Linked DNA regions of Homo sapiens. The protein of the gene in region 6 purifies or fractionates together with the protein of the main gene of each other region. This does not show direct contact. Each region holds a gene or a part of one and is shown on either strand. Other genes may lie near its edges. The genes, in order: PASK, METTL13, FRAS1, POLE2, AP3S1, KLK5 and LOXL2.

Region 1 (3,500 bases), on a different chromosome or scaffold from region 6:
GAGGCTGAGGGTCTGCGTCTGCCTGCCTCTCTCCCTCCATGTCTCCCGCCTCTCTCCCTCCATGTCTCCCATCTCTCTCTCCCCTGTACCTCCCTCTCCCGCTCTCCATCCATCCCATGCTTGAGACAAACCCCATGCAAATGCTAGGAAACTGCACATCCTCCTGCAGGATCAGGTAAGACAGGAGGCGAATGCACACCACGAGGGTCTCACAAAGCCCCTTGCCAAAGAGTCTGGGCAACTTCTGGGGCACAGTCCAGACACAAAGCTGAGGCCCCTGGGCAGCACTGCATCTTCACCCATGCTCTTGGGGCCTTAGCGGGCTGCTGCAGCCTCAGTACCCGTTCTCTCCACAGTCACCTGGGTCCACGGCCCTTCCATCAAAACCCTTGGGCCAGATGTGTTTGGGGATTTCAGAAAAGTCATATGACCACTTGCTAGGGAGACCCCAGCAGGCTGGGGAGAGGGCTTCACGGGCATCCACTGCCCTGTGTCTGCAGCAAGGCCTCTGAACACTCAAACTGCAGAGGTCAAGGGAAAACCACAAACAGCTTCTCACGTGCTTAGGGCCAATTTGACCGTCCAATGCTTTTAGCATCAATTCTAAGAAAAATATTTCAGTGTTGGGGGCTTTTTGGATTTCATAATTTTGGCTAAGAGATTGTGAAACTGTGGATCTCTGACTTTCAGCATGACAGCAACTCAGGAAACATGAGGACATCCTCCAGCTGCCCTGGCAGCCAGGCATCGCCACGCCACTCAGTTCTGGCCAGCATGCAGTCAGGGCATGAAGGATGTGATCTGCCGACTGCACACAGGCCTTGAGCTGCTGGGACCTCAACCCAGGGCAGCCCCAGGGACCGTAGGTCCTCCAGTGGGGAAGCACCAGGACCTGACCCCCGTGGAGACCCGAGACCCCCACCTGCTGTCTGAGCACATCACCTGGGGTCTCTTCGAGGACCTGATGCCCAGTGTAACAATTCACTCAGCTTCAGCATCCATTTGCTAAAAATCAGACTACACTCCCAGGATTACCAGGAGAACTAAAGGAGACAACTTACGAGGAAGCACCCAACGTAGTCCCTAAAACACAAAAGCACTCCGTACAGCTCACCTCCTTCCTTCATGCTTCCTAACCCTGTTCTGTCTTACTGTTTCAGCTTATTGTCCTGACCAGACTACAATTCTTAGGGACACACCCCAAGTCTTCTGTAATGCTTATTTGTTGAATAAGCGAACGAGTGAGTGAATGACTGAGCGGGGAATGAATGGATAAATCTCTATAGTCATAACTGCACTAGCTGTGCAGTGGATGCTAATCAAACTCTCAGAACTGTGACATCCAGAAACGTCCAATGCAATAGAAAGACTAGGAATTGGCTGATCTTGGGCAACTCCCTTGGTACCACCAAGTCCTGGAAGATGAGTTGTGTCCAAGGTCCTGAGGATAGCAACGGGCCACGTGGCCTCTGTCCACCAAGATGTCCCAGACAACGGGAGCACTGGCAAGGGGGCCCGGCCGCTAGTGCTGTTGAGCACCCACGGGTCAGACTTGGGCCCTCAACCACGGCCGCCCCACTTCAGCTTGGTGGCACCTCTGGAGAGGTGCGCACAGCAATATTATTCATAGTAATATTGAAAACTCACGTGTTGAGCGCCTGCTCTGTTCCACTCGCAGTGGAAGTAGAGCAAATAGAGCCAACAGCTACCCTCTCACGCCACTCAACGCGGACCCACAGTGGCAAAGGGAAAATCAGGGAGGCTAAGCAAACAAGAGAAAGCACCGGCACATCGGCCAGTGGGAAAGTGGCCCATGAGCTAGGGTGCCATCCAGGAGGCTTCGGTTCCGAGGAGGCCTGTAGAGGAAGATCTGCAGGACATGTGTGTGCGTACACATACACACACATTTAGGACACTGTGTATGGTATAATCCCAGCCGTGCTCAGGGAACAGAAGCAGTTACATGTGAGCACACATATGCACATGCACACATAGAAGTATAATATACAACTATAGTTAAATGCACAAGAAAGAAGGCCTGGAAGGCTCTAACTGCTGACTGCGGTCCCCTGGGGGAAAGAGTAGGATTGGAGGAGGGGGATTGGAAGACGGCCAGGGGAACTATTGCTTTTACCATTATTCTTCTATAATTAAAAAAACACATATGCATGTATTACATTTTTTTTTTTTTTTTGAGACGGAGTCTCACTCTGTCGCCCAGGCTGGAGTGCAGTGGCGCGATCTAGGCTCACTGCAAGCTCCGCCTCCCAGGTTCACACCATTCTCCTGCCTCAGCCTCCCGAGTAGCTGGGACTACAGGCGCCCGCCACCATGCCTGGCTAATTTTTTGTATTTTTAGTAGAGACGGGGTTGCACCGTGTTAGCCAGGATGGTCTCCATCTGCCGACCTCATGATCCACCCACTTCAGCCTCCCAAAGTGCTGGGATTATAGGCGTGATCCACCGCGCCTGGCCCATGCATTACATATTTTTAAACATACATACATACTTTATATGTATCTATTACATATTTTTTAAATAATTTCAAGACTAGAAAACACAACTATGTGGATAAATATCACAGACACAGCAATAAGCAGAAGGCAGACAGAAGGAAATGCATGCGTCAGGCTCAACGGCAGGCAGTCTAACCTCTGCCCTGACCCAGGGCAGCAGGGTGTAGGGGGCACAGTGCAGGAAGGGACCCAGGGTCTGCAGGCAGCCAAGAAAGGGTCCTGGGCCACCTGGGCACCTACAGTTTGGGCACCTTTACTGCATGCTGTGCATAAGAAAAGATTCTGGGTCAGGTATGGTGGCTCACACCTGTAATCCCAGGACTTTGGGAGGCCAAGGCGGGTGGACCATGAGGTCAAGGGATCGAGACCAGTCTGGCCAACATAGTGAAACCCCGCCTCTAGTAAAAATACAAAAATTAGCCGGGCGTGGTGGCAGGTGCCTGTAGTCTCAGCTACTCAGGAGGCTGAGGCAGGAGAATCACTTGAACCAGGGGGCAGAAGTTACAGTGAACCAAGATCACGCCACTGCACTCTAGCCTGGGCAGCTGAGTGAGACTCCATCTCAAAAAAAAAAAAAAAAAAAAGATTCCGAAGAAGAAAATGGGTTAAAAATACACACACACGTGCTATGTACAATACGACTATGAGAATAGAACAAGTTTTTATTTCTACTTTTCCAAATGTTCCTAATTCTCTAATATAAACTTTCTTTACTCTAAATAGAATATTTTAAAATGTGCAAAGAGAACAGCTTCATATGACTTTGAAAATGATAAAATTAATCCCAGCACTTTGGGAGGCCAAGGCGGGTGGATAACAAAGTCAGGAAATCGAGACCATCCTGGCCAACATGGTGAAACTAAAAAAAATACAAAAAAGTAACCGGGCGTGGTGGCGGGCGCCTGTAGTCCCCAGCTACTCGGGAGGCTGAGGCAGGAGAATGGTGTGAACCCGGGAGGCGGAGCTTGCAATGCAATGAGCAAT
Region 2 (3,278 bases), on a different chromosome or scaffold from region 6:
TGCCATGTTGCCCAGGCTGGTCTCGAACTCCTGAGCTCAAGTAATCTGCCCACCTCGGCCTCCCAAAGTGCTGGGATTACAGGTGTGAGCCACTGCCCCTGGCCACTTTGAGATCTTTAAGAGACAATAATAATAACACACTAGTTCATCTTCTGGATCTAGTCATCATGAATCCAGGATTCAGTTATCAGATGTCAAATTCACTCCTAGATTTCTGAAATGAGACAGGGAGACCTCTAAATCTTGTATCCCCTGAATGGAGACAGTGAGCTGACTTTCCCTTTTGCCTTCCCTGAGGCTGGTACAGAATTTTCCAGTGAACAGGTGGCAATGTGATGCTCTATTCTTTTCTTACAGAGATCCCACTGGCATTGTTGGTGGTAGGCCTGGGCGGGGGCAGCCTCCCCCTCTTTGTCCACGATCATTTTCCAAAGTCCTGCATTGATGCTGTGGAGATCGATCCCTCCATGTTGGAAGTGGCCACCCAGTGGTTTGGCTTCTCCCAGAGTGACCGAATGAAGGTCCACATTGCAGATGGCCTGGACTATATCGCCAGCTTGGCAGGAGGAGGAGAAGGTACTGCTCTTGGAGCATTTGAAGGGGTGTTGAGGGATGATTGATGCGACATTGTCAGGCCCGCAAGGGCCTCTACAGTTTATCTCTAAGAGAGTGGCATGAGTATCGTTCCAGTCTTCAGCCTGTTCATTTGTTGATATACTTATTCACTAGAGTACCAGCTATATGCTTAGCACTGTGTTAGGTGTGAATGTAAAGCAATAAGTAAAACAGGCCATTCCTGCCCTTATGGTGCTAACAGACCAGTGGGCTTTTTTCTGACCTGTAACCTTGTCATTTCCTCACCATCTTAAGAAACCTGAAGTCTAACTGGGCAAAGAAACAGAGAAGAAAAGGTGGAATGTGTGTTGGGAGGTATTTTTGTAAATATTTCAACTGGAGGTAAAGCCAGAAATAGAGCAAAACAGTATTCATGTAAGATCAGTGGTATACAACCTCAGGGTCTGACATTTGGTAATGTATGGAGACAATTTTTCATTGTCACAAATCGGGGTGGGGGATGTTGCTACTGACATCTAAACGGTAGAGGTCTAGGATGCTAGTAAACATCTTACAATGTTCAGGACGGGCACTGATGACAGAATTATCTGGCCCAGAATTTCCACAGTGCTCAGGTGGAGAAACCTTGATGCAGATGGTACTCTGTGGGAATTTTGATAGGCCTTCTGCAACTAGAATTAAGGTTCCATTTGCTCTAGTAATTTGCATCCCAGATTTAGGACAAAAACCATAAGCATAATAATTTTCTGTAAAATACTAGGGACAGTAACTCTGCTATTATACAGATAGGCTGCTGGTGAGTTTAGTACTTTCTGGAGCTCGAGTCCTTCGGGGAGAAGGCAGTTAGGTTGGTTCAGTTCTGTTCAGGACTGCTGGTCTGCTCATTCCATAACAGATACTCTGGTCTCACTAGATTAGAATATTTTCCAGTAAGGGTGTGGCAAACTAGGAGGCCTGGGACAAGTATTGAACAGATGCTATCTTAATTTTAATTGCAAACTGAATTGAATTGTAACAGTTTCGTAGGTTCCCTCTCTGAGGCTAGGGTTAGTTTAGGTGCCCAAGCCCAGATAGCTAATACGGTGAAGTATTTACAACAGTGCCATGCACATGGTAAGTACTTAATCCATGATGTTACTGCTGTTGTTATCTATAGATCAGTTTTCAATGGCTCTGCCCATCTTCTGTAACACCAAAATGTTTCAGATTACTGGAGGGCTCAAGGCTGCAAATGCAGGCTATTGTTTTCCTTGGACTTTGATGAGCCAACATGTTCTCTTTGTAAGAAACCAAAATCAGATCTGTGCTATGAACAATGATAAGCATGCAGCAGTCCTAATTAAATACTTATTAATTATTGAATAATTATGACCACAGTCTCAAAATTTTCTAAAAACCTGTCAGTGGCATTGCAGACCTACCCCTTATAAAAACAATTTAACATTATAGTAAGGAGCAGATCCATTTCTTCATCAGTTCTTTCTCACCCATTTAGCAAAATCATTTCTTTCTTGAGTCAGCTCTTGTTCATGGAACTGCAAAGATAACACTAACTGAAATTTCAGAACATTTTCTCCTATGAGGCAAAATGTGCTGTTTTCAGAGTTAAAAGTTACCATTTGCTGGGTCAGCCCTTAAAGGCTTAGTCAGCTGCTTTGTCTAGATCAGTGGTTCTCAACTCTGACTGTATTTAGAATTACCTGGAAAGCTCAAGAAAAATACCAGAGGCTTCCCATCTCTCCTCCCATCTGCCCCCTACTACCCCAGGATATTTTATTCTGTTGGTTGGCGTGTAGTACACATTAGAAGCTTCCCAAGGTGATTGTAATGTTCTGCCACAGTCAAAAGCCACTGGTGTTGATAGACTCTTAACCGAGAAATATTCATGCAAAGGGGACCCCAGTAATGTTTTTGCCTTTGGAAGGTGCTTTTAAATGTGGAAGAAGGTTCCATCTTTACTATGGGACACTCTGAACCCTGATGACAAAGACTCCCCTGGGCCATGACATCAGTGCCCTTACAGGCAAACCACATCCTCTGTGTCATCCTTCTAACTTAGTCACCATGCCCACCACTGGTAAAGAGGAGGTATAGTGTTGGAATGTAAATGGTATTATTTTATCCAGCAAAGACAAGGACTTGTTTCCTTCTTTTTCCCAGCACGGCCTTGCTACGATGTCATAATGTTTGATGTTGACAGTAAGGACCCAACACTGGGAATGAGTTGTCCGCCCCCAGCATTTGTGGAGCAATCTTTTCTACAGAAGGTTAAAAGCATCTTGACTCCTGAAGGTATGGAGAACAAAAGGTGGGAGAGGGAGGAGAGAAGGGACCATTAACAAAAATTATCTTTTTAATGAAAAATGCACAGAAGTGCGAGCTCGATCAATTTTTCCAAATTTAATACACCCATTTACTAGCACTAGACACAGAAAATTTCCAGCTTGCCAGAAAGTCGTATCTCTTATCCCCTTTCAGTAACTTGTCCTCGCAAGAGTAATCACTGTCTTAACATTTGTCCACCCAGCTTAATTTTGCCTGTTCTTGTTCTTTATATAAATGGAATCATATGGAATGTTGGAATGTTCCCTTTTTTTTTTTTGAGACAGGGTTTTGCTTTGTTTCCCAGGCTGGAGTGCAGTGGCCTGATCATGGCTCACTGTAGCCTCAAACTCCTGGTCTCAAGGAATCCTCCCACCTCA
Region 3 (3,500 bases), on a different chromosome or scaffold from region 6:
TTATCAGCCTAGAGAATAATTTTTAAAAATAGAAAAGAGACATTCACATGTATACTTCTTTTGATGGGATGTACCTTGTGACACCTTTGCTGACCAGCTTATGGCAGAATTTGTCGTTTTCTTCTCAGTGCACAGAGAGAACAATTGTGGTTGGTATGGGTTTGGTCTTCCTCACTTAGCTGTGTGCTTATTGAGGGGTTAGGATGGCTCCTATTAATTCTGATATCTTCAGTTCAGCTCCTAGTATACACTAAGTGCTCAAAAAATTGGTCAGATGAACAGTATTGCCAAATTATATTATTTTGAATTAAGCTTAACTGGTGGACTGGCCTCTGATTAGCTCACTAACCTTGAATGAACCATCTAACCTCTTTGCGCTATAGTTCTGTCATTTACTAAATGAGGTACATTACGTGATAGCTCTAAGATACTTTGGCTAATCATCAAACATAGAAGAAAAAGAGATCAGTATTTGCTGCATTATTAGTGGTCAATTGCAATTTTCTGGTTCTAAATTTTATTATTTTTATTATTTTTTTTTTGAGGCACAGTCTTGCTCTATCACCCAGGCTAGAGTGCAGTGGTGCAATCTCAGCTCATTGCTGCCTCTGCCCCCTGGCCTCAAGCGATTCTCATGTCTCACCCTCCTGAGTAGCTGGGATTACAGATGTGCGCCACCATGCCCAGCCAATTTTCACATTTTTAGTAGAGACAGAGTTTCACCATGTTGGCCAGGCTGGTCTTGAACTGCTGACCTCAAGTGAACTGCCTGCCTTGGCCTTTTAAAGTGCTAGGATTACAGGTGTGAGCCACTGTGCCTGGCCTCTAAATTTTATCAAAAGAAATATCAAAAGAAAAATAAATTTTTACAAGCAAATTATTGGCAGTGTTATTTTATATGGCCTTATATTGCTAAACTGGTAAAGTATTAATGCTATGACTTGAGAACTTAATAAAATCAAGAAGTCACAAAGAAGCTTCTAACATGGCTGCTTTCTGAATCACAGAAACTCTACCATGGCTTTTTCTGGAGAAATATCTTGAGTTCTGTTGACATATGGAAGTCCTGTGAAGTTACAGTAGATAAGACAGTTGCCTTGGGATAGGGAAACATCATTGAATTGGAGGTTAAGAGAATTGAGCTTTAGTCTGTGTCCCATCACTCTCCATGTGATTTTAGCCATTCCCACAAACGCTGAATCCCGGGTTTTTCCTATAAATGCTATTTAACAGGTTACATTGAAGAGGCTCATTTGATAGACAATATGTTTTATTTATGGGTGAGTTAGGGTAGTTGCACTCTGGGCTGCAGAGTTGTTTCACTGAGAGACTCTATGCTTGAAACTCAATAACTCAATGTTGGGAAGAGAAGAACTTGGCTGGAAAAAAGTAACCTAATTCTTTTATTCTGCAAGCCTTTATTGAGAGGTTCTGTGTCAGGTTATGTCCAGTAGGTGGGTACAGACATCAAAACCAAAGCCAAAAAAACCTCCTGCGCTCAAGGAGTTTGCATATCTAGAAATCATTAATGTCAGTTGAATAGCAGTAGGGATATGGGAACATTTGGTCCTTGGTGGGTTTCTCAGTATGGAAACGTTAGATGATGGTTGTAACTTTGCATCCTTTGGCTTTTGTAATTACCTGGCAATGGAAATAAAGAGGTGTTGTTGTGGACTCTTATTTTCATCAATTATATTTCCATTGCCCTCTGAAGATTGGATTCTGGGCATTACTCTCCTTATATAGTGTACATCCTTTAGTAAGGACCCAGCCATCCGTATTCACTGTTATGGACTTGGGTGGCAATGTCACCCAACTGTACTCACACAAGTAGTCATAAAATATTCTTTAACACATGGCTCAGAGTAGGGGAGGGGACTACCACATGTCAAAGTTGGAGCCTCATGCCAAATCTTACCGTAGTTCCAAAACAGTTGGCCCACTTTCATTTTAACTACTCTATTAATTGATCTAAATCCTAGTTGACAATAATCAGGACATGAGCTGTCCTGTCAGTTCAGAAAATGATTCTATTTTAAGTATTCCACAGTGCACACAGCCATATGCTGAATTATAACACAACATAAAGCCTGAACATTTAAATGCCAACTTGTGGCTGCTTGTTCCTAATGAGTCATGTTCTTGTGGTACCATGCTCTCCAAATCTTTTTGTATCTTAATGGTTGTATCTGCCACTATTTCTTTGAACTAATGGGTCTGACATTTTGTGGTGCTTGGATTTAACTTCTCTAATTTACTCAGTTTACCAACGGTTTCAGAATATATGCAAATTATATCTCAAAATTTCTCCAAAAATACTAGATTTTATACAGTCATCTCATAAAGGCGTATATTATAATGTGCAAAAGGGATTAAAAACAGACATTTACTTGTTTAAATTTTATGCAGTAACGTTTTTTCTGTGTGACCTGCAAGAAATGAGCCAGCCACACAGTAAAAGAGCAGCTCAGGTCTCAGGATCTGGGCTTCCTTCTTGACACTATAAAATTACTTCACCCTGCAAAACTTTATGCTCTTTCTCACAGGTTGTGAGGTGTTAGAACTTAAATTACCTGGCATCTCAGCTGCATTCTGTGCCTTGAAATTGGCATTGTTCATAGTTAGAGAACTACTCCTGTTGTCTCCGGTTTTTCCTCAGTTTTCCTTTGAGGGAGGCTCATTTCTTCTTCTAGATCAGCACTCTCTCACAGAATTCACCTTGAGCTGGAATTTTCTTTAAAGTTCCCTGCCATAAATATAAACGTCAAATAGACCTGCAATCATTCTTGTACTCCTGAAGAAAAAAAAATAATGAGTCGAGAGATGAATTTTGTTTTCCATATTATGTGAACTGACGGATTAGTGAAAAGACCTCCACTCTGGCTTTCAACCAGAAGCTACACCCAGTACCCATGTCAACAAACCCCTCAACTTCATCTGCTGGTGGGTGTGTGAGAGAAATATGCTTCCTTTGGATGCTGCATCTGGTATTGGGTGATGATAAATGTTTGATAGAACTGGGCATCACACTGGAATGCTTTTTTTCTCAAGAGAGTAGAAATGAGGTTTTGGAAGCTGTGTTAATGGAGGCTCATTCATGCAGCTGCCTTCCAGGTAGAACTGTTCTGTTTTAGGAAAGCTCTCAGAGGGCAAAGCTTATTTCTTTTGGAATTGTACAATACAAAGCAACCCAAATTGAATTAATTCCTTTTCCTAATGATATAATTTTTCAGCAGCTCTACACCATTTTGGCTTGAGTCTCCAGCAGATGCATGGCTTGCCCAGGTATAGATGTGGTGCCACACTCAGTGCTACTTTATTTTTTTCATACTGCAGTGAGTTTATCATGGCTATCTAAACTTCCAAAAATAGGTTTTGATATGGGTACTCAGATACTTCTTAAGGTGCTTGATTTCCTTTGGAGCTTTGAAAAGAAATTGACTTTGGAAGGTAATGCTGTGGAGAGCAATAAAATTATTTGAGGATAGTCTTATTTTAAA
Region 4 (3,500 bases), on a different chromosome or scaffold from region 6:
ATTATTTCCTGTAATTTCAGGCATCCTAACATGTGATTTCTCAGATAACTGTATTTTGAAAAAGTTCCCACCACTGGTTAAGAACAAGTGCCCAGGCAGGGCACGGTGGCTCATGCCTGTAATCCCAGGACTTTGGGAGGCCGAGGTGTGTGGATCACGAGCTCAGGAGTTTGAGACCAGCCTGACCAACATGGTGAAACCCCGTCTTTATTAAAAATACAAAAATTACCCGGGTGTGGTGGCGTGTGCCTGTAATCCCAGCTACTCAGGAGAAGGAGGCTAAGGCAGGAGAATTGCTTGAACCTGAGAGGTACAGGTTGAGTGAGCAGAGATGGCGCCACTGCACTCCAGCCTGGGCAACAGAGTGAGACTCTATCTCAAAAAAAAAAAAAAAAAAAAAAAAAAAAAAAAACCAACAAAAAAACAACTGACCAAATCAAGTAACTCCCCTCCAGGTTATTGTCAGAGAATATAATCTTGAACACAGCCCAGTTGTCTTTTTCTTTTTGGAATTAACATATTTATTTAAAATAAAAGTGAATATAAAATGAATAATTTTCAAAACATGCTTATAAATATAAAATTAAAAAGGAGGCCAGACGCTGTGGCTCTTTTCCAGCCCACTTGTCTACGCTGGATATCCTGAGGGCACTTGATTTTGTGACCCCAGGACTAAGTCAACTCTGAGGGCTGTCAGCCTGGAGCATACAGTCTTATCCACTGTTAGAATGTCTTTTACTGAAATAACATTTGGCATAAAACTTGTAGACATAAAACAGTCTGCAGCCATTCGTGGTGGCTCACACCTGTAATCCAGCACTTTGGGAGGCCAAGGCAGGCAGATGACTTAAGTCAGGAGTTTAAGACCAGCCTGGGCAACATGGCAAGGCCTGTTCTCTACAAAAAAATACAAAAAATTAGCTGGGTGTGGTGGCCCACACCTGTAGTCCCAGGTACTGGGGAGACTGAGGTGGGAAGATCACTTGAGCTCACTTGAGCTCGGGAGTCAGAGGTTGCAGTGAACTGTGATTGGTCCACACTGCACTCCAGCCTGGGTGACAGCTGTCAAGTACCCTGTCTCATGGTACTTGCAGTTGATGCTCACTCTTTGTCCACTGAAATAGTTGCTTCCTTTATCTGCTGTGGCCTCAGATGCTGAAAGCCTTGACATAATTTCCAAACTATAATTTTGTATTGGTAACTGGGGAATCTTTTCAATGCTAGATCAAACAAACTGATGTAAGTTTATGTTTTAGGAAAACAGAAAAGTTTCAAGATATATTGAAATAATCTGGCCTTCTTGCCACTTAGTTTCTCCTAAGAAGCCTTCTGTTAGAATATTTGTGAAATCATATTGTGGAATTAGTCACAGAAATGTAGTCAAAGTTGATAAAATTAACCCTGTTTAAACATGACTTTCAAGTAGTTTTATTTAAAAACACAATATTGGTGATGTTTTGGAGGAAATACACATTCTCACATGTAGTTGGTCAGAATGAAAAATGGCAGAAACCTTTATGGAGGGCAATTTGACAAGATTTATTAATGCCTACACCAACAATTCCACTTTTAGGAATTTATTCTATAGGTATACTTAAGCCTATGCATACAAGTAGGTACATCATGTATAGGTACAGCTGGCTTTTTACTGCAGTGTTTTTTTTTTTTTTTGTGAGACGGAGTTTTGCTCTGTTGCCCAGGCTAGAGTGCAGCGGCACAGTCTCGGCTCACTGCAACCTCCATCTCTTGGGTTCAAGCGATTCTCCTGCCTCAGCCTCCCAAGTAGCTGGGATCACAGGCACATGCCACCACGCCTGGCTGATTTTTTGTATTTTTAGTAGAGATGGAGTTTCACCATGTTGGCCAGGCTGGTCTCAAACTCCTGACCTCAGGTGATCCACCGGTCTTGGCCTCCCAAAGTGGCTGGGATTACAGGCATGAGCCACTGCGCCCAGCCTTTTTACTGCAGTTTTTATACCAAGAAATTTTAAAAATGTATATATATCTAAATATTTGTACTTATTCAGAACTTTCTGATTTACTTAAATTTCTAAGCCTCAAAGAAGTAAATATAATGTATTTACTACTAATGGAAAAAAGGTGTAGAAAGTATGCATAATATCCTATCACTTCTGTATGTTTTTAAAGCATAAGCCCACATATACATGTGCTTATATATGATTAGAATACTTTTTTTTTTTTTGGAGACGGAGTTTTGCTCTTGTTGCCCAGGCTGGAGTGCAATGGCGCAATCTCAGCTCACTGCAACCTCCGCCTTCTGGGTTCAAGAGATTCTCCTGCCTCAACCTCCCGAGTAGCTGGGATTACAGGCATGCGTCACCATACCTGGCTAATTTTTTATTTTTAGTACAGATGGGGTTTCTCCAAGTTGGTCAGGCTGGTCTCGAACTCCTGACCTCAGGTGATCCACCCGCCTCTGCCTCCCAAAGTGCTGGGATTATAGGCGTGAGCCACCGCGCCCGGCTACTTTTTTTAAAAATTAGTCTACCTTTATAAAGGACATATAGTTGTTGGCCGGGCGCGGTGGCTCATGCCTCTAATCCTAGCACTTTTTGGGAGGCTGAGGCGGGTGGATCACCTGAGGTCAGGAGTTCAAGACCAGTCTGTCCAACATGGTGAAACCTCGTCTCTACTAAAAATACAAAAATTAGCCAGGCATGGTGGCAAGTGCCTATAATCTCAGCTACTCAGGAGGCTGAGGCAGGAGAATCACTCGAACCCAGGAGGCAGAGGTTGCGGTGAACCGAGATTACGCCATTGCACTCCAGCCTGGGCAACAGAGTGAGACTCCCTCTCGAAAAAAAAAAAAAAAAAAAAAGACATACATTTGCTTTTTGGGAGCAGAAAAGGGGGCATGAGAATGACTTATTTTTTAGAGTCTCCTTTTGAATTTGAAACAGTATGTATGTATTGACCTGTTTTTAAAAATCAATTAACTATACCTATTTAAAAAAATTAACTACAACTATTAGTAAGTATACAACTTAGGTTTCCAAATATTTAATTTTTTTTTCTATTTTCAGCAAACTTCAAGGCTTTTGAGATTCTTAAAGATCATCTGAAGAAAATTCATCAGTTTTCTGCTTAACTCTATATCTTATGTGATTCTGATATTACAATAAAATTATGGTAAACTTTAGGATGTTCTGCTTAAATTTGTATTTTGTGAAATTTTGATACTAAGTGATAAATATGATGGTATACTTGAGAAAGTTTTCTAGGAAAAATATTTTCTGCATAGTCTTTTAAGAAAAATATATGGGGGCCAGGCGCAGTGGCTCACGCCTGTAATCCTAGTGCTTTGGGAGGCCAAGGCGGGTGGATCACCTGAGGTCAGGAGTTCGAGACCAGCCTAGCCAAGGTAGCAAAACCCTATCTCTGCTAAAAAAAAAAATACAAAAATTAGCTGGGCATGGTGGCGGGCGCCTGTAATCCCAGCTTCTCGGGAGGCTGAGGCAGGGAGAATCACTTGAACCTGG
Region 5 (3,500 bases), on a different chromosome or scaffold from region 6:
TACTTCTCTGACTTTATCATTTACTAATCTTTTCTTATCTACTGGCCTTTTTTCTCTTCCCTGAACATACATACTTTGTTCTTGATGAAATGTCCTTTTAGTACTTACTACCTTAGCCTGAAATGCTCTTCTCTAAATTTTTTCCAAGCCAACTCCTTATCATTAGATCTCAGCTTAAATGCCACTCTTGCTTAATATTCAGCCTGAAGTAGGGAACCCATCAATATATCATCATTGTATTTTGATTGTCAGTGTAACACTTGCCACTATCTGATGATGTTCTGATGTGTGTGTTTGTTGCTTCTTCCCCACTACCAGTGCTTGGCACATAGTAGTTACTCAGAGAATAGTTTAATGAATGAATGAACTGAAATTAAGCACTGGCTTCTTTTACTTGATGTTTCTGAAGAAAACAGCCACCTTAATTCACCTAGTCTCTGAATAAGTTCACTTAAATACTTTGCCATTGAATGTCACCTTTCATTTGACAAGTGGTTTTTAAACAAATTGTCAGTTTGCTTGAGCTAATGAAAATGATTCGCATTTTGTTTCCAATAACATTACAATTTTTTTGTCATTTAGATTAATTGGAGGATCTGACAACAAACTGATTTATAGACATTATGCAACGTTATATTTTGTCTTCTGTGTGGATTCTTCAGAAAGTGAACTTGGCATTTTAGATCTAATTCAAGTAAGTTAACACTTGCTTCTTACTATCTTAAATAACAGTTTGACATTTAAATTTTTAAAAACTTATATATTCTAAATTTTCTAAAATGATGTTAGTAAGAAATAAAGCATTTCATAATAGATATTGTGTTGGTAAAAGAGGTCAGAGGACATAGAAACAAGCAAACATTTGATCTGATTAAAACTATCATAACTAGTTTAATCATGACATTTTATCTTGCTCATGTAAGTTACAGCAAGGAGCTTAAGACTCGTGGGTTTCTTAACACATGTATCCAAAACTAACCCTAAACCCTACCTCTCCCTGTCTCCTGAAAATCTTTCATAATGTCCCTGGAACTCAAGGTCAGTCATCAGCAAATTTCTTTTTATCTTCAGCCTCTTCTGTTAATATTACTTTACATTTTGCTCTAAATTAAATCTTGCTTCCCTGATGATACTACGTGCAACCCTTTGAAGTAGTGGCCATTTTCTCTCCTGCTTCTTTCTGCCTTTGAGCCTGGAGGTGTAATCTTAGCTTCTCATTGCATTTTCCAGACCATTCTTTCTTCTCAAACACCTCCAAATTTTATCTTATGTTATCAGACTATACCACCTTCTATCCATTTAGTTATAGTCATCACTCATCTCCATCTCTCCTTCATTGGAGATTTTGTTAAGAATTGTGAAGGGTCTGAGATTTGCTCTACTTGCAAACTAAGAAGTTAACCTGCCATAATTTCATGGATGCTGGCAGAAGGCAGGAGATTTCTGGGCCAGAGACAAAGGACCTTATTACTAATAGCAAAAACATTAGCTAAAGTGACAGCATTTGCTTGCACGAATTCTCTAATTCCCAAAGGGTGATATGAAGAGGTCCAGATGATACCTGCACACACAGTGGATTAAATGACAGATGAGGAACGCCAAGTTTAGGGAACTGGAATCTTTTATAATGGATACTAAGCATGTCTGCCCTTGTTTGGAAGGAAGACTGTCTCTTCCAAGAGTGTAAGGAAACCTATCCTTTGCTGTGGAAGAAGACACTGTCTATTTTCCAGGGCTGTTTGATATACAAGCATGCTTAAAAAGATAGCCCAGAACAAAGACAGTCAATGCCTCTGCTCACAATACGTGTGGAAACACAAGATCCATCTAAAATTGTCTCCTAATAGATTTTGGTTCTTGGTTCCCTGGCATTCATTCCAGTACTGCTTGTTTTGTAATTCTTGGTGATTCCATTGTTCATATGTATAATTCTCCCAATATCCTGGTGTCTTCAAAATCTGGAACTCCTCTCTTCCAATAAATTTTGCCCTCCACTCCATCTCACTATGTACCCATTTCTAGATTTTATCTTTGTCTAAACTGTAACCCCTCCATAATCTCAATTTCACAGTTTTGAAGTCGTTAGACCTATTGCAACCCTCAGTTTTAAAAATCCATCATTTTTTTCACTCTGATTTTACTGATGTCTTACTTTCCTTATCCAGCTTAAATTTCATAATCATGGTAGTGATATAGCCTTGTGTACACTGAACTCCTTGCCCACACCCATACATCTGAACATACCTAGAGGAAAAAAAAAAGTAACCATATTTACCAGTCTCACTTTAAATTAATGATCCCTTAGCTCATTGAGTCCTTTATGCTACGCAAGAATCATTTTCTGTTTCCCCGGTCCATTTACTCTCCCATACCTCTAGATGACTACTCATACAGTCTCCTCTCTCCTAAAATATCTAGCACTTCTAGCACCTTGCTTCCCAGTGCACAGATAAAATTGGCTTTTGAAGTTAGCAAGAAGGTGGCATGGTTTGAGCTCTAGTTGGCGTTACAGAATAGACAAGAAATTAACCCAAGCAGACAACTTAGGTAACAAATTCTTAGCACTGTGGCTAAGGCTTTAAAAATAAAAACATTGTGGCCAGGTGTGGTAGTTCACACCTGTAATCCTAGCACTTTGGAAGGCTAAGCTGAGCAGATCACTTGAGCCCAGGAGTTCGAGACCAGCCTGGGCAACCCCATCTCTACAAAAATTAGACAGGCATGCTGTTCTGCACCTGTCGTCCCAATCACTTGGGAGGCTGAGGCGGGAGCCAGGGAGGATGGCTTGTAGTGAGCTGAGATTGTGCCACTCACTCCAGCCCAGGTAACAGAGTGAGACCCTGTCTCAAAAAAAATAGAAATAAAAACATTGTTAATAAAATAAAAAAGGAGATAAATGATAAATTGATCTATTTGTATGCCATATTACTCTTAAATCTGTAATTCTTAAACTGGGTTTTTGGGAGGAGCTGGGTATCAAAGTTACATGAAACCACAAGGTAATCATGGCACATATTCCTGGTATATGTTTCTTCTTTGTTTTGAAGATTGGCGGCAGTGAGGAAATGAACGTAAACATGTATATATTATGAGGTAGAATACAAATTTTTCATAATATTTAAAGCTCTAAGTGGAGACTTGAAAGAAATTTTGAGCTTGAGGTAAAGGTGCCCCAAGATCCCTTGGGTATATGTTCACTTTCCTCCTGGGGCCTACTTGAGAAACACTGCTGAGTTATGTTTTGCTTTCTCAAGGCTTTTCTAGTAAAGAAAAAGAAGCCAAATCTTACTTTTGATGACATTGAAGGGTTGATCAGGACTATATATTGCATTGCCTTGTAACTTTGTTTATTCTTACATTTCTTAGTTTATCCCACCTAGGGGAGTAGTTAATTCATTTTATCATTATGTCAAGAGAGCATTATATTTTTACAGAAAAAAAATTAATATAGAACCATGCTTTCTATTTCTCTGTTTCCCATGACTGAAGAGAGTGGTAGA
Region 6 (3,500 bases):
TTGCAGTGAGCCGAGATTGTGCCACTGCACTCCAGTGTGGTTAACAGAGTGAGACTCCATCGCAAAAAAAAAAAAATAATAATAATAAATAAATGAAAATAAAAAATAGCCACCTGGCCAATATTTATGAAGAAGGTGAAAAGTAGTCTGACTGGACCTCTGTTTCTCACAACCCAAGTGACCTCATAGACAAAACACATGAGCCTGGAGGCGGAGATATGACTTGTTCACAGCCACCCTGCACAGGGAGGAGACACAGGAAGATTCCACTTCTCAGTTTATTTCTGGGACTAAATTTGGGTCAGAGCTGCAGAGAAGGGATGGGCCCTGAGCTTGAGGATGAAAGTGCCCCAGGGAGATTGAGACGCAACCCCCGCCCTGGACAGTTTTGGAAATTGTTCCCAGGGTTCAACTAGAGAGACACGGTCAGCCCAATGTGGGGGAAGCAGACCCTGAGTCCAGGAGACATGGGGTCAGGGGCTGGAGAGATGAACATTCTCAACATCTCTGGGAAGGAATGAGGGTCTGAAAGGAGTGTCAGGGCTGTCCCTGCAGCAGGTGGGGATGCCGGTGTGCTGAGTCCTGGGATGACTCAGGAGTTGGCCTGGATGGTTTCCTGGATCCACTTGGTGAACTTGCAGAGGTTCGTGTAGACACCCGGTCTGTTGGGCCGGGCACAAGGGTAATCTCCCCAGGACACGAGTCCCTGCAGGGAGCCATTGCAGACCACAGGCCCCCCAGAATCACCCTGCAGGAGAGAAAGGGGGGCATGAGAGAGGCAGAGATGTGGCAAAGTGGGCAGAAGGAGACATGAGAGACCCAGAGATGCCCATAGATGGAGAAGCAGATGGGAACAGACACACAGAGATGGAAAGTACAGAGATGAAGAAATGCAGAAAAAGACAGAGATGGAGACACAGGCAAAAGGAGAGAGAGGGAGAATGTTATTAATATTTCACTCCAAATCCAGCTTTTTTTTTTTTGAGATGGAGTCTTACTCTGTTGCCCAGGTTGGAGCGCAGTGGCCTGACCTCAGCTCACTGCAGCCTCCATCTCCCGGGTTCAAGCAATTCTCCTGCCTCAGCCTCCCAAGTAGCTGTGACTACAGGTGTCCATCACCACACCCGGCTAATTTTTTGTATTTTTTTTGTAGAGACGGGGTTTCACCATGTTGGCCAGGCTGGTCTCGAACTCCTGGCCTCAAGTGATTCGCCCACCTCAGCCTCCAAAGTGTTGGGATTACAGGCGTGAGCCACCATGCCTGGCCTCCAAGTTCAACCTTTAGACCCCATTTGTCACTCTCCACTCCATCTTCCTCTTCCAGATTCCTGTTGTCCACACATCATTTCGGGGGGGTCTGTGACCCTTCCTCTCCACATCTCGAATCTTCGTCTCTACTTTCTGTTCCAGCCTGTCTCCCTCATCGTGTATCTCTCCGCCTCCCTTTCTCTCTCACTCTCCCCTCCAGCCTGTGCAGGCCTTATTTCTCTTACTGGACACACACCTTCCTTCCCCATTCTCCACCAACCCATCCTTATACCTCCCTTCTGCAAAAATACGGTTCTCAGCCCCTGGATGAGGGTTCCTCGATCTGGGCACTGTGGGCATCTGAAGCTGGATAATGGTTTGTTGTGGAGGCCTGCCGTGTGCATCATAGCATGTTGAACAGCACACTTGGCATCTATCCATTAGTTGCCAGTAATGCCCCTCCATATAGTTGTGACAACCAAAAATGTCTCCTGGTATTGCCAGTGTCTTCTAGGGGCAGAATCACTCCCAATAGAAATCCATTCGCTTGGACTAATTTGTGTTTCCTGTCTTCAATTCCCCATACCTCCCTATAATTACCCTCCTATAATAATACTCACTGCTCTTCAACAGTCATTTTTTTCCCTCTTTTCCTTCTTTCCTTCCTTCCTCTCTCTTTTCTTTCTTCTTTCTTTCTTTCTTTTTCTTTCTTTCTCTTTCTTCCTTTCTTTCTCCTTCCTTCCTTCCTTTCTTTCTCCTTCCTTCCTTTCTTTCTCCTTCCTTCCTTCCTTTCTCTCTCCTTCCTCCCTTCGTCTCTTTTTTTTTTCTTTCTGACAAAAACGTCTTGCTTTGTCACCCAGGCTGCTGTCTGGAGTGCAGCAGTGCAGTCATGGCTTACCGCAGCCTCAAACGTTTGGGCTCAAGCAATTCTCCCACCTCAGCCTCCCAAGTAGCTGGAACTACAGGTGCAAGCCACCACACCCGGCTAATTTTTTTTTTTTTTAATTTACTACATATTTATCTATCTCTTTATTGCCTGTCTTCCACTTGGGGAACATGAGGTCCACGCGGCAGGAAGTTTTTGGTCTGTTTTGCCTGATGCCATATCCACAGCACCTGGAACCATTCCTGGTGCAAAATAGCCACTCGGCTAATATTTATGAAGAAAATGAAAAGTAGCTTGAGTGGACCTCTGTTTGAGGTAGAGAGAAATGTCTATCTCCCACCTGGGCACGGTGGCTCACACCTGTAATACCAGCAATTTGGGAGGCCGAGGCAGGCAGATCACTGGAGGTCAGGAGTTCAAGACCAGCCTGGCCAACATGGTGGAACCCCATCTCTACGGAAAAAAAAAAATAGCCAGGCATGGTGGTGGGTGCCTGTTATCCCAGCTACTTGGGAGGCTGAGGTGGAAGAAATGCTTGAACCCAGGAGGCGCATGCTGCAGTGAGCTGATATGGTGCCATTGCACTCCAGCCTGGGTGACAGAGCGAGACTCCGTCTCAAAAAAGAAAAGAAAAGAAAAGAAAAGAAATAAATATGTACATACTACAATAATGATGTAAGTGGTATGAATAAAATCTACTAAAATAAAAACAATTAGTATTTTTATTTTTTTAATTTTTAGTTGCCCAGGCTGGTCTTGAACTCCTGAGCTCAAGTGATCTTCCCACTTCAGTCTCCCAGAGTGCTGGGATTACTGGCATGTGCCATTGCACCCGGCTTCATTTCTTACTTACATGCATGCAAAATATGAATTACAGAGTCCTGGTATCAATTATTAGGAAAGCCAAGACTTGCCTTTTTCCCAGTAGCAGACACTGTTTCAAAGCAAACAAGCTTAGCTGCCTGTACCTCTAAATTTCAACTTTCTTGTGGTTTAATTTCTCTCATTATTTTTTAAATTTAATATCTCTGCAGAGTTTCTTTTGAGAGGCTGTTAGTTAACTGCTCTGAGCCTTGGCTCCTTGTTTGTAAAATAGGGCCAATAATAACAGGTAAATGAGTTAATGAGCTGAGGCATGCAAACCACTTAAAACAGTGTCCAGCAATTAGCCAGATGCTATTATTTTTATACTATTGGTATTAGTATTGTTGTAGTTGTTATTATTTCTTGCTTGTAGCTTTTAGTGGCCACACCCAGACCACACACCGGTATGAAAAAACAAACAAAAAAACACCTTGAGGTCTGGAAAAACAAGATACTAACCTTGCCTACAGAAAGGCTAAATAGTTTTAAATGCCACCACTTG
Region 7 (3,500 bases), on a different chromosome or scaffold from region 6:
TGGTCACCCAACAGACATGGAACTGCCTCACTCCAAGGCAGATCATCCCTCCATGGGCAGCTCTGGACAGCTCTGACTACAGGAAAGTTAGCCAGTCCTTCCTCAAAGGTAGTGTGCCATGACCAGAAGAATATGATTAGCCTACTCCTCTGCATAGGGTTAAAATAAAATACCTTATGCCCCCACCTAAGCTTCCACCTGCTCATCCTGGTTTGGGGCCCTGCATGTTTCTCCACAAGACACACGTGTGCTCCTTTTAAAATCGTCTCCTCTTTTCTCTGAATTACGGGAGGACCAAGATACACGAGGTCTCTTGCTACATGATTTCACTCGGGAATTCTTAGAGGTAGGCTCCACCAGATACGATGACCAGGACCTTGAGGATTTTAAAACTCATTTAGCATTGCAGCCCTCAAAGCTGACGGGAAAATTATAATTCATCTAGCAAATGTTCCTGTAGTGTTTTGGGGTGCCATTCATTTAATGGAGGGTGGGTGTGTTGAACATCCTGCCCTCACCCCTTCAGACCCGCTCCTTCTCCACCGGCCCCCATGTTCCAGGAGGCTGTCCCACACGGGCTCCCTCAATGGGCTCAGCTCCCTTGCCAGTGGCTTCGAGTTGAAGGGGGCTGGGTTTGCCTAATAGGAGGCACCAGAATGATTCAAAGACGGGAGGAAAGGGAGTCAGGTATTTATTCTCCCTCCCATGTCCCCGCCGTTGCCATGGGTTGGCTCTGAGACCCTCCAGTGAGGGCCACAGCTCCTAAGAGACAGCTCCCTCTGCCAGTCTCCAGTTCTCACCCCCGCAGGCTCCCTTCAAGCCTAGGGTGGTCACAGCCCCCTCTGAGTCGCCAGCCCTAGGGTGTGACACCGGCCTTTGTTAGTTCTGCAGAACTCTGCCGGCATGTCCGTAGTCTTAAAAAACTCTCCTTAAATTAAGTTGGAGTGTGTTCTGTTCCCTGCCAGGAACTCTACTGGAAAAAGCATTCTAGAGAGATGACAAGGCAGTAGGTAAAGGAGGTGGGACCTCCCAGCCCTGCATGGTGGAAATGTAGGAGTGGGGCTGGATTGGCGTCGAGAATGGACGAGCTTTCCATATTAAGCCAAGGGGTATGAAATCGCTGGTTCTCTATGTAGGTCTCCGTAGCCCCACGTTCCCATCCTAACGCATCTCTCCTCTCTTCCAGAAAGCTCCTGCTGCTTCTGTACCCCGCCTGTCCCTCCCAGCTGCGCAGGGCCCCTTCGTGGGATCATCAGCCCGAAGACAGGGATGGAGAGGCCTCTGTGCTCCCACCTCTGCAGCTGCCTGGCTATGCTGGCCCTCCTGTCCCCCCTGAGCCTGGCACAGTATGACAGCTGGCCCCATTACCCCGAGTACTTCCAGCAACCGGCTCCTGAGTATCACCAGCCCCAGGCCCCCGCCAACGTGGCCAAGATTCAGCTGCGCCTGGCTGGGCAGAAGAGGAAGCACAGCGAGGGCCGGGTGGAGGTGTACTATGATGGCCAGTGGGGCACCGTGTGCGATGACGACTTCTCCATCCACGCTGCCCACGTCGTCTGCCGGGAGCTGGGCTACGTGGAGGCCAAGTCCTGGACTGCCAGCTCCTCCTACGGCAAGGGAGAAGGTAAACGCTCTGTGCTTTGGATCTGAGTGCTGTCACCTGGCAAGGCCCGGAGTGGCCTTCCCTGAGGTCAGCCTGGGAGAGGAGGCTGCACGCACTGCGAAGTGTAAATTCTTGGTGATGCCCATCCAGGGACTGGCATCCTTCTGTGCCCACTCAGGCTGCACCCTGCAGGAAGGCGGGGTCGGGGGGCTTGAGGAGGGGCACAGTAAGTGACCAACCATACTGATTTGCCCAAGACTTTCCTGGCTTTAGCACAGAAAGTCTCACATCCTGGGAAAACCTCAGGAAAACCAGGACAGTTGGTGACCCCAGGTAGGGGGTGAAATCGGCCTGTGCTCCTCTCTCCGCCCCATATGCCCTGCCTGGGGGCTGCGTCAGCCCAGAGGAAGTTGCGCTTTACTCCAAATCGTTCCCTGTTAGGAAAGCCTCTTGCTCTTCCTCACAATGGCTCCCACATGCTGGAGCTCCCTGACGCCCCCCACCTTCCTGGCATGTGGAGTTCATCGTTTTCACACTAACCTGCTATTGTGGGCTTGGTCACAATAGGCACACAGATGCTTTGGGTTTTTCACCGTTGGTTAGCCTATTCTTTCCTCCCTTGTGAGGTTCAAATTTATTAGTTTATTTTTAAAAATTGTTTTAAGAGCTGGCCAGGCGCAGTGGCTCATACCTGTAATCCCAGCACTTTGGGAGACGGAGGCGGGATGATCACTTGAGGTCAGGAGTTCGAGACCAGCCTGGCCAACATGGGGAAACCCCATCTCTACTAAAAATACAAAAATTAGCCGGGCATGGTGGCGAGTGTCTGTAGTCCCAGCTACTCAGGAGGCTAAGGCACAAAAATCGCTTGAACCCGGGAGGCGGAGGCTGCAGTGAGCCGTGATCGCGCCACTGCACTCCAGCCTGGGTGACAGAGCGAGACTCCATCTCAAAAAAACAAAAAACAAAACAAAAACCCAAAAAATTGCTTTAACAGCTTTGAGGCAGGACAAAGTTTGAAGCCCTGAACCTAGAGCTCAGTCTGTACTGACCTCTGACACCACACTTTGTAGGAAGACGCATGTCCTCTCCAGCCTCATTTTCCCCATCTGGAAGTTGGGCTAAGAACCCCTGAAACCCTGACAGTGTATGTTCCCAAATAGGAAAGAGATAAGGGTGGAGGGAATTGTTTCTTTTTAAACATTTTTCCAGGAGCTAAGAGTTTCCTATCTCTGGGTCAGCCAGGCAAAGGAAGCTCCCACACCCTCCCGCCCGGCTGAGCTGCAGCCCAGACCTCAGCACAAGTCTGGCTACTGGACTAAAGCAGAGCTGCCTATACTCCTGTCCTGGACTAAAGGGCTAATGCCATGCTGACTGCGTAAGAATCGCCCAAGGGAGCTTAAAAGTACAGAATAGCGCAGACCTCAACCCACCATAATCTAGTTTAAAAGGTCTGGGCTGGAGCCCAGGACTCTGTCTCTTTTGGAAGTCTGCAAAGTGACAGGTTTGGGAGTCATTGAAATTGATAACTGTTATCCTCCCTTCCAACTTTTCTGTTATTCTAGAAATTATAGGAGAAAGGAAGTCCCATCTCATACACATCTCACCTCCATGCAATTGAAAATTTCCTTTTGGGGTAACTGGATCAGGAGACAGCACAGAGTCAAATGTTCTCTGCAGCTTGCTCTGGGCGATGAGAGCCACAGCAGTGAAGTTAGCAAATGCTGGGCTTTAGAACCCACTTCCTGTCTTCTTTAAACAAACGTCCGATACTTCCACATCTCTGTTTATCCGGCTGGCTGAGCGATCCAGGGGTAACCTCAGATTCATGTTTTCCATTCCAGGCTTTCCAACGCTCATTATTTTATAACAAATGCTTTCCAGTGACTGGGTATTT

What was found.
Region 1: the proteins of KLK5 (region 6) and PASK purify together in Homo sapiens (affinity purification with mass spectrometry; 3 studies listed by BioGRID and IntAct, with this or other methods). This does not show direct contact.
Region 2: the proteins of KLK5 (region 6) and METTL13 purify together in Homo sapiens (affinity purification with mass spectrometry; 3 studies listed by BioGRID and IntAct, with this or other methods). This does not show direct contact.
Region 3: the proteins of KLK5 (region 6) and FRAS1 purify together in Homo sapiens (affinity purification with mass spectrometry; 4 studies listed by BioGRID and IntAct, with this or other methods). This does not show direct contact.
Region 4: the proteins of KLK5 (region 6) and POLE2 purify together in Homo sapiens (affinity purification with mass spectrometry; 3 studies listed by BioGRID and IntAct, with this or other methods). This does not show direct contact.
Region 5: the proteins of KLK5 (region 6) and AP3S1 purify together in Homo sapiens (affinity purification with mass spectrometry; 3 studies listed by BioGRID and IntAct, with this or other methods). This does not show direct contact.
Region 7: the proteins of KLK5 (region 6) and LOXL2 purify together in Homo sapiens (affinity purification with mass spectrometry; 4 studies listed by BioGRID and IntAct, with this or other methods). This does not show direct contact.

The regions. Positions count from the first base shown.
Region 1 is NC_000002.12:241,128,973-241,132,472, forward strand, and holds part of PASK (PAS domain-containing serine/threonine-protein kinase), read right to left. Parts: intron 1-3,500. UniProt on the Homo sapiens protein: Serine/threonine-protein kinase involved in energy homeostasis and protein translation. Phosphorylates EEF1A1, GYS1, PDX1 and RPS6.
Region 2 is NC_000001.11:171,791,660-171,794,937, forward strand, and holds part of METTL13 (eEF1A lysine and N-terminal methyltransferase), read left to right. Parts: intron 1-357; coding exon 358-576; intron 577-2,736; coding exon 2,737-2,868; intron 2,869-3,278. UniProt on the Homo sapiens protein: Dual methyltransferase that catalyzes methylation of elongation factor 1-alpha (EEF1A1 and EEF1A2) at two different positions, and is therefore involved in the regulation of mRNA translation.
Region 3 is NC_000004.12:78,060,323-78,063,822, forward strand, and holds part of FRAS1 (extracellular matrix organizing protein FRAS1 isoform 1 precursor), read left to right. Parts: intron 1-3,500. UniProt on the Homo sapiens protein: Involved in extracellular matrix organization. Required for the regulation of epidermal-basement membrane adhesion responsible for proper organogenesis during embryonic development. Involved in brain organization and function.
Region 4 is NC_000014.9:49,643,215-49,646,714, reverse strand, and holds the end of POLE2 (DNA polymerase epsilon subunit 2), read left to right. Parts: exon of another isoform or gene 1-145; intron 146-3,044; coding exon 3,045-3,063; 3' UTR 3,064-3,160; downstream 3,161-3,500. UniProt on the Homo sapiens protein: Accessory component of the DNA polymerase epsilon complex. Participates in DNA repair and in chromosomal DNA replication.
Region 5 is NC_000005.10:115,869,435-115,872,934, forward strand, and holds part of AP3S1 (AP-3 complex subunit sigma-1), read left to right. Parts: intron 1-582; coding exon 583-694; intron 695-3,500. UniProt on the Homo sapiens protein: Part of the AP-3 complex, an adaptor-related complex which is not clathrin-associated. The complex is associated with the Golgi region as well as more peripheral structures.
Region 6 is NC_000019.10:50,943,039-50,946,538, forward strand, and holds the end of KLK5 (kallikrein-5 preproprotein), read right to left. Parts: intron 749-3,500; coding exon 593-748; 3' UTR 265-592; downstream 1-264. UniProt on the Homo sapiens protein: May be involved in desquamation.
Region 7 is NC_000008.11:23,366,121-23,369,620, reverse strand, and holds part of LOXL2 (lysyl oxidase homolog 2 precursor), read left to right. Parts: intron 1-1,186; 5' UTR 1,187-1,269; coding exon 1,270-1,624; intron 1,625-3,495; exon of another isoform or gene 3,496-3,500. UniProt on the Homo sapiens protein: Mediates the post-translational oxidative deamination of lysine residues on target proteins leading to the formation of deaminated lysine (allysine).